Regions from separate parts of the Homo sapiens genome. Here region 2 is linked to region 1. The links come from fine-mapping of genetic effects on gene expression. A gene starts in region 1. The other region holds a variant in brackets. All regions are shown on one strand. Distances are between the middles of the regions.

Evidence for each region.
Region 2: its variant is fine-mapped to the expression of CCDC17 in whole blood (TOPMed, PIP above 0.99).

Annotation. Positions count from the first base shown.
Region 1 is chr1:45,621,447-45,626,964 of GRCh38, forward strand. CCDC17 (coiled-coil domain containing 17) reads right to left here and starts at 2,608. Exons shown (of 13, transcript NM_001114938.3): 1 at 2,290-2,608; 2 at 2,111-2,206; 3 at 1,771-1,993; 4 at 1,509-1,671; 5 at 1,305-1,388; 6 at 1,103-1,221; 7 at 795-902; 8 at 431-549; 9 at 192-289; 10 at 1-38. The coding sequence starts at 2,463.
Region 2 is chr1:46,140,746-46,145,745 of GRCh38, forward strand. All of the region lies in intron 1 of P3R3URF-PIK3R3 (P3R3URF-PIK3R3 readthrough), which reads right to left. It also overlaps a transcript of PIK3R3 not described here. Among named protein-coding and RNA genes, the nearest start is that of PIK3R3, 11 kb to the left of the region's middle. The variant G/C (reference allele first, on the strand shown) is at 2,689.

The DNA.
Region 1 (5,518 bases):
GGCCCCGCAGGAAATCATAGAAAATGACCAGGCCAGCCCTGGGGAACACAAGTCTTAGCACAGAAATACCCAACTCCTTTCAACCTCCCTCCTCTCAGGCAGGTCCCTAACCCTATCTGGTCCTAGTGGGCTCCCTTAACCAGCAGTGCTGGCCAAGTCACAGAGGCTGTCGAAGGTGGCACGGGCCTCACCCAGGATCATAGGGTGCAGGGCCCAGCATGTCCGATGTGGGCAGGAGGAAGTGTGAGTCCAGGCCCAGGTTTCTGGTCATTGTTCCAGGAAGCTGTGGCTGTGGGGAAGAGAGCTGACTCCTCCAGAAAGCCTTGTAGCTGCTCATGTTCCCCCAACTGCTCAGAGCAGAGCTGCCTCCAACCTGTTCCCCCAACCCACCCCGTGTCCTCACAGCCTTTGCCCCACCCAAGAACTGAACCTCCGAGAAGCCTGGAAGTGGTGGCAGCGGTGGTGCCACCGGTGGCGGGAGGAGTGGGGGATCTCTCCTCCCCTTCGGTTGTAGGCTGGCATCCCCCAGGAGTCGCAGATCCTGGGGCCCTAGGAGCAGAAGAGTTAGGGTGCCCCTAAGTTGGACAAAGCAGGTAATTAGCTGAGATACCCCTCCCCCAAGAGTTGGGCCCACAAATGGGTTGGCGGAGCCCTGTGGATACAGGGATACACACGTGCAGACATGAACTAGGGGAGTCACAAACACGGGTCTTGTTCCCCATGCACTGTCTGCCTGAGCCAGGCCTGCTGGGGAGAGATAAGTGGGATGGGATAGGGTTGGGGTGCTCACTGACCCAAGGGTGCCCGACCCCTCTGCATTTGCAAGGCCAAGATTTCTGCCTCCAAGCGCCGGTTTTCAGCCTCCACTACTGGAAGCTCCCCTGAGGTGGCACCTGCCCTTCCTGCGATGAACAAGTGTGACCTGTCACCTTTGACCTCTGGTGACTGGCCGCGTCCGGCTGTGAGCAGCTCTCCAGCGCTAAGGCTCTTCGGATAAGGCTGGACTTGTCAGCTCACATGCCATCCACAGCCACAGGCCCTCCCTCGAGTTCTTTTCTCCTCCCAGGACTGACCACCGCTGGCGAGAGGCCCTCCTGTTCACCTCTGCGGGTCTGCGACCGCTGCAGCTCCAGTGCAGACGCCTCCACCTGCAACTGCCATATCTGGCCCAGCACGCCGGGGTCCCGGCCCCCGTCTCGAATGTAGGCCTCCCGCAGCGCCCTAGGGAGTGGGGAACAGGAAGGCCGTCTTTCCAGAACTGCTCAGCGCTTCGCCCTATGCCCATCTCCGGCCCCGGCTCTCACCGGATTTCGGCAGCCAGAGTTCCCGGGTTGGCCTTTTGCACTGGAGAATAAAGTTCTGCCTCTCGCCGGGAGCTCAGCGGGTTCCTGGGGTGGCAGGCGACGCGCAGGGAGACGGTAACGCATCAGAGGCCCCGGGGCTGCAGCCAGCCCGCCCCTCCCACCCCGGAGCCGCATGTTCCGGGGATCCGCTTAGTCGGGTCTCACCCTGGCTCCGCCTGCAGCTCCTGAATGCGGGCCCCCAACACCTCTAGAGCTCCCCGCGTCCTCCCGGCCTCAGCTTGTAGTTCTCGAATCTCCTGCTCCAGGCCGAAGAGGCGGGACATCCCGCCCCGCGTACAGGCCACAACTTGGAGGCGTCGGCTCAGTTCTGAGGGAATGCGGGCCGAGTCAGAACCGGCCCGAGCAAGCTTAAGCCAAACGGCGAGGGCAGAGGAGGTCCTTGGTCCCCGTCCCCCATCTCCTTCACCCTCGCCGCGTAGCTGCAGGGCCCGGCTCTGCGCTTCCATCTCCGCCACGCGCCTCGCGCGAGTCCTGAACAGCGCCCGCAGCCGCTCGCTGGGGCTTCCCACCGCCTCGGACATGGGACTCTGAGGCCGCGCCTCGGAACGTGTCCAGGGCCCCGCGAACACCCTGGGGACCTCTGTTATCCAGGGCCGCATTTCCTGTAGGGATAGCCGCAGCCACTGCACCTGGAGGTAACAGCGATCCGCGATCTCTGCGTGGGCAGAATCTGTCCCAAGTATGATCTACAGGTTTGGGGAAGACGCTCAACGTTTTGAGCCCTGGGGGAAGGTAGGTAGCTCTACCTCCTCTGTTAACCTCTTTAGAGCAGATCTACTGGCCTGCTGGTCTGGGAGGCCCTGGGGTTCTTGTGGCACGCCCTGGTGTTCTTGTGGCACAACCTGGGGATAGGGTGTAGTAGGATGAGGAATCATAAAGGTCCTGGCTCCTTTGAATCCCCACCCATGGCCATGGAGGCCCTTACCGCGGCCCGCTGGGGTTCAGTGGCAACTGATGCCTGTGCTCCAAATGTCATCTCTTGGGTCGGGTGGCCAATGCAGAAGCGCTGAGTATGGGTGGCTAACAGAGCTGAGGAGCGGAAAACCATGTCACAGGTCCCACAGGGCAGGAGCGCAGGCTCCCCAGAGTGGGAGTCCATGGGATGGGACCCGTTTCCTGAAACCAGCCAAGACCTGCAGAAGGGATCAAGGGCAGGGGAAAGGCAGAGGAGGATGAAAGAGACATAAAGCCAGAGGCAGAGAGGAAAGGCCGTGTCTATTAGGTCTGTGAGATCTTCAAGTTTGTTTGGGGAGAGCCTTAGCTCCCTGGACAGCAACCACAGGGCTGGGCAGGTCAGGAGAATGGGTGGGGAAACCTCGGCCGTTTGGGAGGAGCCACTGGCTTGAAAAAGTGTTACAAAGTCTGAACGTGGGCAAGTCTCTAATTGTAGCTTGGTTTCCCTGACTATTAATAAAGAGGAAAAAGCAGCTGCCTCCTAGACTAGGCTGGGCCCTTATCACTTACTACATCATTGGTCATTTAATAGCCTCTAAAAGGCAAGTGTCATCTTTTTCATTGCTGTACTCCCAAGTGGATGTAACAGTTTGTACCATTCTCCAATCCAGAGAACTACCTGGCAAAGGAGGCACTCTGACCTTTCCAGCATTCTGCCTGGAAACCATGTCGCACCAGGGATAGCAGTCTCCCTAACTCCCATTCCCTGATTCCTCATTTTTCAGCTGTAGACGAAGATAATCAGCACAGCCCAAGAAATGAAAGCTGTGGGCGAACAGAATGAATCTATCAGATGAGGGAATCAAGTCCAGAAAAAAACCCCTTCTCTCTCCCAAGATTGGCCAGAAGCCAGAAAGACCCTGAACTGTTGGTGAAATTCTTCACTCCACTCCCACTCCCAAAATATATGGAGGAGCTCTGAGGTGACCGCATATTTCTTAAGAAACCCTCTTTACTTTTTTTTTTTTCTTTTTGAGATGGAGTCTCGCTGTCGCCCAGGCCGAAGTGCAGTGGCGCGATCTCAGCTCACTGCAATGAGCTCTGCCTCCTGGGTTCACGCCATTCTCCTGCCTCAGCCTCCCAAGTAGCTGAGACTACAGGTGCCCACCACCACGCTTGGCTCATTTTTTGTATTTTTTAGTAGAGACGGGGTTTCACCATGTTAGCCAGGATGGTCTTGATCTCCTGACCTCGTGATCTGCCCGCCTTGGCCTCCCAAAGTGCTGGGATTACAGGCGTAAGGCACTGCGCCCGGCCAAGAAACACCCTTTTCTCTTCTTTTTTTGAGACAGTCTCGCTCTGTTGCCCAGGCTACAGTGCAATGGCACGATCTCGGCTCACTGCAAGCTCTGCCTCCCAGGTTGACACCATTCTCCTGCCTCAGCCTCCCCAGTAGCTGGGACTACAGGCACCTGCCACCACACCCGGCTTTTTTTTTTTTTTTTTTTTAGACGGAGTCTCGCTCTTTCGCCCAGGCCGAAGTGCAGTGGCACTATCTGGGCTCACTGCAAGCTCCGCCTTCCGGGTTCAAGCCATTCTCCTGCCTCAGCCTCCCGAGTAGCTGAGACTACAGGTGCCCACCACTGTGCCCGGCTAATTTTTTTTGTATTTTTAGTAGAGATGGGGTTTCACCGTGTCAGCCAGGATGGTCTTGATCTCCTGACCTTGTGATCCGCCCGCCTCGGCGTGCCAAAGTGCTGAGATTACAGGCGTGAGCCACTGCGCCCAGCCTTATGCCTGGCTAATTTTTTGTATTTTTAGTAGAGACGGGGTTTCACAGTGTTAGCCAGGATGGTCTCGATCTCCTGACCTCGTGATTCCCCCGCCTCGGCCTCCCAAAGTGCTGGGATTACAGGTGTGAGCCACCATGCCTGGCCGAAACTCCCTTTTCTAAACAAGACAGGGACTTAAGACATTTCCCTACTCAGTACCTAAAGCCAAGGTATGACCCACCAGCAGCAAGTTACAAAGTGTTCAAAGTATGTCATCTCAGTTCAGCTTAATTCCAACTGACATAAAGAGTACATTTTTAGAAATATGTTCTCAGAAAACAAGTAAATGGCAAAGCCCAAATCAAAACCTCCTTTTCAACAACTAAGTTTGTCCCAATTTTCAATGGTTAAGACTTTTGACTGGTTGACTTTACAATGGTGCAACAGTGATAGGCATTCAGTAGAAATACTACTACCATTTTTTTTTTTTTTCCCTCAAGAGACAGCTTGTAGTTCTCTAATCTCCTGCTCTAGGCCGAAGAGGCGGGAGCAGGACTGTCATCCAGGCTGGATTGTAGTGGTGCCATCATGGCTCACTGTAGCCCTGAACTGCCTTGGAATCAAGCAATCCTCCTGCCTTAGCCTCCCAAGAAGCTGGGACTACAAGTGTGTGCTACCACGTGGACCTGTCTATTTTGTTTCTGTTTTTGAGACAGAGTCTTGCTCTGTTGCCCAGGCTGGAGTGCAATGGTGCAGTATGGGCTCACTGCAACCTCTGCCTCCTGGGCTCAAGCAATTCTCCTGCCTCAGCCTCCTAAATAGTTAGGATTACAGGTGCTTGCTGCCATGCCTGGTTGTTTTTTTTTTTTTTTTTTTTTGAGACAGAGTCTCACTCTTTCTCCCAGGCTGGAGTGCAGTGGCGCTATCTCAGCTCACTGCAAGCTCTGCCTCCTGGGTTCACGCCAATCTCCTGCCTCAGCCTCCCGAGTAGCTGGGACTACAGGCGCCCGCCACCATGCCTGGCTAATTTTTTGTATTTTCAGTGGAGATGGGGTTTCACCATGTTAGCCAGGCTGGTCTCGAACTCCTGACCTCAGGTGATTCACCCGCTTCAGCCTCCCAAAGTGCTGGGATTACAGGCGTGAGCCACGCCTGGCTGGACCTGACCATTTTAATGTTTTTGTTTTTTATAGAGACAGGTCACTGTGTTGCCCAGGCTGGTCTTGAACCCCTGTCCTTTTCTTACATCACTGTCTATTCTCTCCCCTACTGGGCTGGGCACTCCTTGCATCCTCAGAGCCTTGCATAATGCCTGGGACATACAACACGGGCTTAGAAAGTATTTGTTGAATGGGCCGGGTGCGGTGGCTCACGCCTGTAATCCCAGAACTTTGGGAGGCCGAGGTGGGTGGATCACAAGATCAGGAGATCGAGACCATCCTGGCAAACACGGTGAAACCCCATCTCTACTAAAAATACAAAAAATGA
Region 2 (5,000 bases), 520 kb after region 1:
CAGAAGAAACCAACCCTGCCAACACCTTGTTTTGGACTTCTGGCCTCCAAAATTGTGAGAGAATAAACTTGTGGTTTTTTTTGTTCTTTGTTTTTTGTTTTTTTGTTTTTTGTTTTTTTGTTTTTTTGTTTTTGAGACAGAGTCTTGCTTTGTCACTCAGGCTGGAATGCAGTGGCATGTTCACAGCTTACTGGAGCCTTGAACTCCCAGGCTCAAACAGTCCTCCCACCTCAGCCTCCTGAGTAACTGGGATCACAGGTGTGCACCACCACACCTGGCTAATTTTTTTTTCTTTTTGTAGAGACGAGGTCTCACTGTTTCCCAGGCTGGTCTTGAACTCCTGTGCTCAAGGGGTCGTCCCACCTTGGCCTCCCAAGGTGCTGGGATTACAGGCGTGAGCCACTGCACCTGGCCGATTTCTGTTGTTTTAAGCTACCCAGTTTGTGGTAATTCATTATGGCAGCCCTAGGAAATGATACAACCACCATAATTTAATTTTTTTCAAGCACATTTTATTTTACTTTATTTTATTTATTTATTTTTGAGACAGAGTCTCACTCTGTCACCCAGGCTGGAGTACAGTGGCATGATCTCAGCTCACTGCAACCTTCCGCCTCCCGGGTTCAAGCAATTCATTGCCTCAGCCTCCCGAGTAGCTGGGATTACAGGCGCCCACCACCACGCCCAGCTAATTTTTGTATTTTTAGTAGAGATGGGGTTTCACCATCTTGGCCAGGCTGGTCTTGAACTCCTGACCTCAGGGGATCCACCTGCCTCGGCCTCCCAAAGTGCTGGGATTACAGGCGTGAGCCACCGCGTCCAGCCTTCAAACACATTTTGAAATCAATATGTAGAGATCATATAATTTTAGAATAAAGGATCATCTTTCCCAATGAATGACTGTAAGTCACATTAAATATAGTGCTCAAACCTATAAAACTTTGTCATAGACTAGCTCTAGTCCTAGAAACCAGAAACCTAATCCCAACGTGAATCTTAACCATTTTCTCCCAGTGTCATCAAATGTCTCTCTCCTGTCTTTCCAAAAGAGTCAGCCAGCCAAAGCCAAATCCCAGGCCAAAACAACAGTCTACTTCTGCTCTTATGCCCAGGTAGTTGGGCTTAGGTAAAGAAAACCAAGTTTACCAACTTAGCTCTGGGCTGGTCTCTGGTCATAATTGGGATTCCTTTGGCTCATTCTGTATCTGCTTATTCTGATACTCCAAACCTTCACTACTCATCTCAAGTGACTACCTTCCACTGTCAGATCAGTAAATGTGACCTCTCCTTTTACTTGACAGAAATCAACAGGCATAATACTCCCTTCCTGTATTCATCCCTTCAAAAGCCTGTAAACCTGTACCCATTCTTGCTTCCTTGCCTTCCTTTCTGAAGAAGCATGTCTTTCCTGGAGTTGAAAGCTAATCACTAGATTTGACCTCTGGATGGCACCCTCTTCAGCCTCCTAAAACCAGTCCTACCCCCTCTCCTGTCTATCCAAATGCCTACTGGATGCCACACAAATGTTTCAAAATCATCATATCTGAGCTAGTTCCTTTTCTAGTTAGGTGACAGGGCCAGATGAAAATATAGGCCAGACAGGAAGAAAACATGTACAAAACCCCAGAGGAGAGCACATCGCTCTTTGAGGACATTGAAATTAATTACAGAGGCCGGGCGCGGTGGCTCACGCCTGTAATCCCAGCACTTTGGGAGGCCAAGGCAGGTGGATCACGAGGTCAGGAGATCGAGACCATCCTGGCTAACACGGTGAAACCCCGTCTCTACTAAAAATGCAAAAAATTAGCCAAGCGTGGTGGCGGGCGCCTGTAGTCCCAGCTACTCGGGAGGCTGAGGCAGGAGAATGGTGTGAACCCGGGAGGCGGAGCTTGCAGTGAGCCAAGATCACGCCACTGCACTCCAGCCTGGGCGACACAGCAAGACTCCGTCTCAAAATAAAAAAAAAAAGAAAAGAAAAAAAAAGAAAGTAATTGCAGGCTGGCCTAATGTTAAAGGAGGTAAAGGGTGGTGGGGATGAAGCTACAGGGTAGGCATGAAGAGGCTTATAAGTCAAGATAGGAATGTGTACTTTATGCTCAAGCAATGGGGGGAGTTTAGGAGTTTTAAGCAGAGGAGTGTTGTGATGAGATTTGCATTTGAGAATCATCAGATTGCAAAATGGATTGAAGGGGCAAACTTTGAAGACTTGGAAAACATTGTTGCAACAACGTGGGCAAACGATCAAGAGTCCTGTGTAGATTTGTGTAGATGTGAGAGATGCTTAGGAGGTAGACAAGGCCACACTAAATGAGTGATTAGGTAACCAGCATGTCTCCACCCTAAAGAATGGGCCACTCAATAATGAAATTACAGCCTTTCTTGTGGAGAATCTCTCCCTTCATTGGTAGTATTTTTCTCCTTCGCTTCTGCGTGTGATTCATTCATTTCCAGGACCTCACTGGGTAGATCAGCTAGCTCCAAGATCACTGCTAATGGGTTAAGGCCTAAAGGTGTGAGTGGATCAATGACCCAGGCTGGTCAGTCAATTGCTCCATTGTAGTAGATACCTTTTTTGTGTTTATTTTTTTAATTGATACAGAATACTTTACATATTTATGGGTTACATGTGATTTTTTTTAGTATATACAATGTGAGATGATCAAGTCAGGGTATTTGGTGTATCCATTA[G/C]GTTTGAGTGTTTTGTTTTGTGTTTTTTGAGACAGGGTCTCACTGTGTCGCCCAGGCTGGAGTGCAGTGGTGTAATCACAGCTCACTGCAGCCTCGACCTTGACTTCATAAGCTCAAGTGATCCCCCCACCTCTGCCCTCCCCACCACCACCCCTGCTCTTCAGTGCCAGTAGCTGGGACTATAGCACATGCCACCATGCCCAGCTAACTAAGAAAAAAAATTTTTTTTTTTAGAGACAGGGTCTCACCATGTTGCCCAGGCCAGTATCAAATTTCTGGACTCAAGCAATCCTCCCACTTTGGCCTCCCAAAGTTCTGGGATTATGGATGTGAGCTGCTATGCCTGACCACCTTGAGTATTTATCATTTTTATGTGTTGGGAACATTTAAAGTCTTCTAGCTACTTTGAAATACATAATACTTGCATCTCTACTCTGCTGTTGAACATTAGAACTTACATTTTCTATCTCACTGTTAACCAACCTCCCTTCATCCCCCTCTCCCACCCACACACCCTTTCCCAGTCTCTGGTATCTATCATTGTAGTGGATACTTTTTAGTACCTCTGGCCAGTTCACCATGATGTCCCCCTTCTCAATTTGTACATGACTGTGTCCCTGGCCATAGCTGGTAGGGCCTAGGCTAAATTGATTAGAGTTTCTTTCATAAATATTTGGAAATAGTACCCAAAACAAGATCTAGGCTCTTCAGGGGTTTGGACCTATAACACGGAATCAATCTCTGGAGGTATTATGGCCATGTTCACCCTGAAGGCTGAGTTGCAAAGGAAGCCGGTCTTCAGAAAGCCAAGGAAGGATGAAAGAAATGCTCTGAAAGGAGCAGAGGTGAGGAATGGAAAGAATACGAGCAGTAATCAATTTCCTGAGTATAGAGCTTCTTAAGGCCCAGCTTGGTTCCTATACTAAGGTCAGGCCTACACCTAACATTTGCAGGGCCCAGGATGAGAATATAAATGGAGAGCCATATACCATATGTCAAAATACTTGAAAGTTACAAATCAGGCCAACCATTAAATAAAAAATACTCAATCCTCGGCCAGGTGCGGTGGCTCATGCCTGCAATCCCAGCACTTTGGGAGGCCGAGGCGGGCGAATCGCAAGGTCAAGAGATTGAGACCATCCTCGCCATCGTGGTGAAACCCTGTCTCTACTAAGAATACAAAAGTTAACTGGGCATGGTGGCACGCACCTGTAGTCCCAGCTACTTAGGAGGCTGAGGCAGGAGAATCACTTGAACCCGGGAGGTAGAGGTTGCAGTGAGCCAAGATCGTGCCACTGCACTCCAGCCTGATGACAGACCGAGACTCCATCTCAAAAAAAAAAAAAAAACGACTCAATTCTCCTATCTTGCCAAATATATCTTCATGCAAACTTAGAAGACTGGGTTGAGGCTGGGCACGGCGGCTCATGGCTGTAATCCCAGTACTTTGGAAGGCTGAGGCGGGTAGATCACCGAGGTCGGGAGTTTGAGACCAACTTGACCAACATGGAGAAACCCCATCTCTACTAAAAATACAAAATTAGCCAGGTGTGATGGCGCATGCCTGTAATACCAGCTACTCGGGAGGCTGAGGCAGGAGAATCGCTTGAACCCAGAAGGCGGAGGTTGTAGTGAGCTAAGATCGCGCCATTGCACTCCAGCCTGGGCAACAAGAATGAAACTCCACCTCAAAAAAAAAAAAAAAAAGAAGAAGACTGGGTTAAAATTTAGAATTCACAGATCCTTAGAGTTCTGACAAAACATGGGGGAGATGGGAGGGAGAGAACTGACCCCTTTTTCTTCCTACCCTTGGCTCTATCCTGCACTGTGAGACTGTCAAGGGAGTCTTTGTATACATGTCCAAGCTGCTTCCATCCATCCCTGTCTTAGTCCATTTTGTGTTGCTATAACAGAATACCTGAGGCTGGATAACTTTTTAAAAAAAAAAAAAAGATATTTATTTTGACTCATGATTCTGTTGGCTGGAAGAGTCCAAAATTGGGCAGCCACATCTGGTGAGAGCCTCATGCTGCTTCCATTCATGGTGCAGAGTGGAAGGGGAGCTGGCATGTGCAGAGATCACATGGTGAGAGAGGACACAAGAGAAAGCAACCAAGGAAACAAGGCTCTTTTAACTCATCTATTCCCATGAATTCAAGACCTCACTCACCCCTATAGGAAGGCATTAATATATTTGTGACCCATCCTCCTCCATGACCCAAACACCTCCCACTAGTCCCTACCTCCCAACACTGCCACGTTGGGGATCAATTTTCAACATGAGTTTTGATGGGAATAAACCACATACAAAC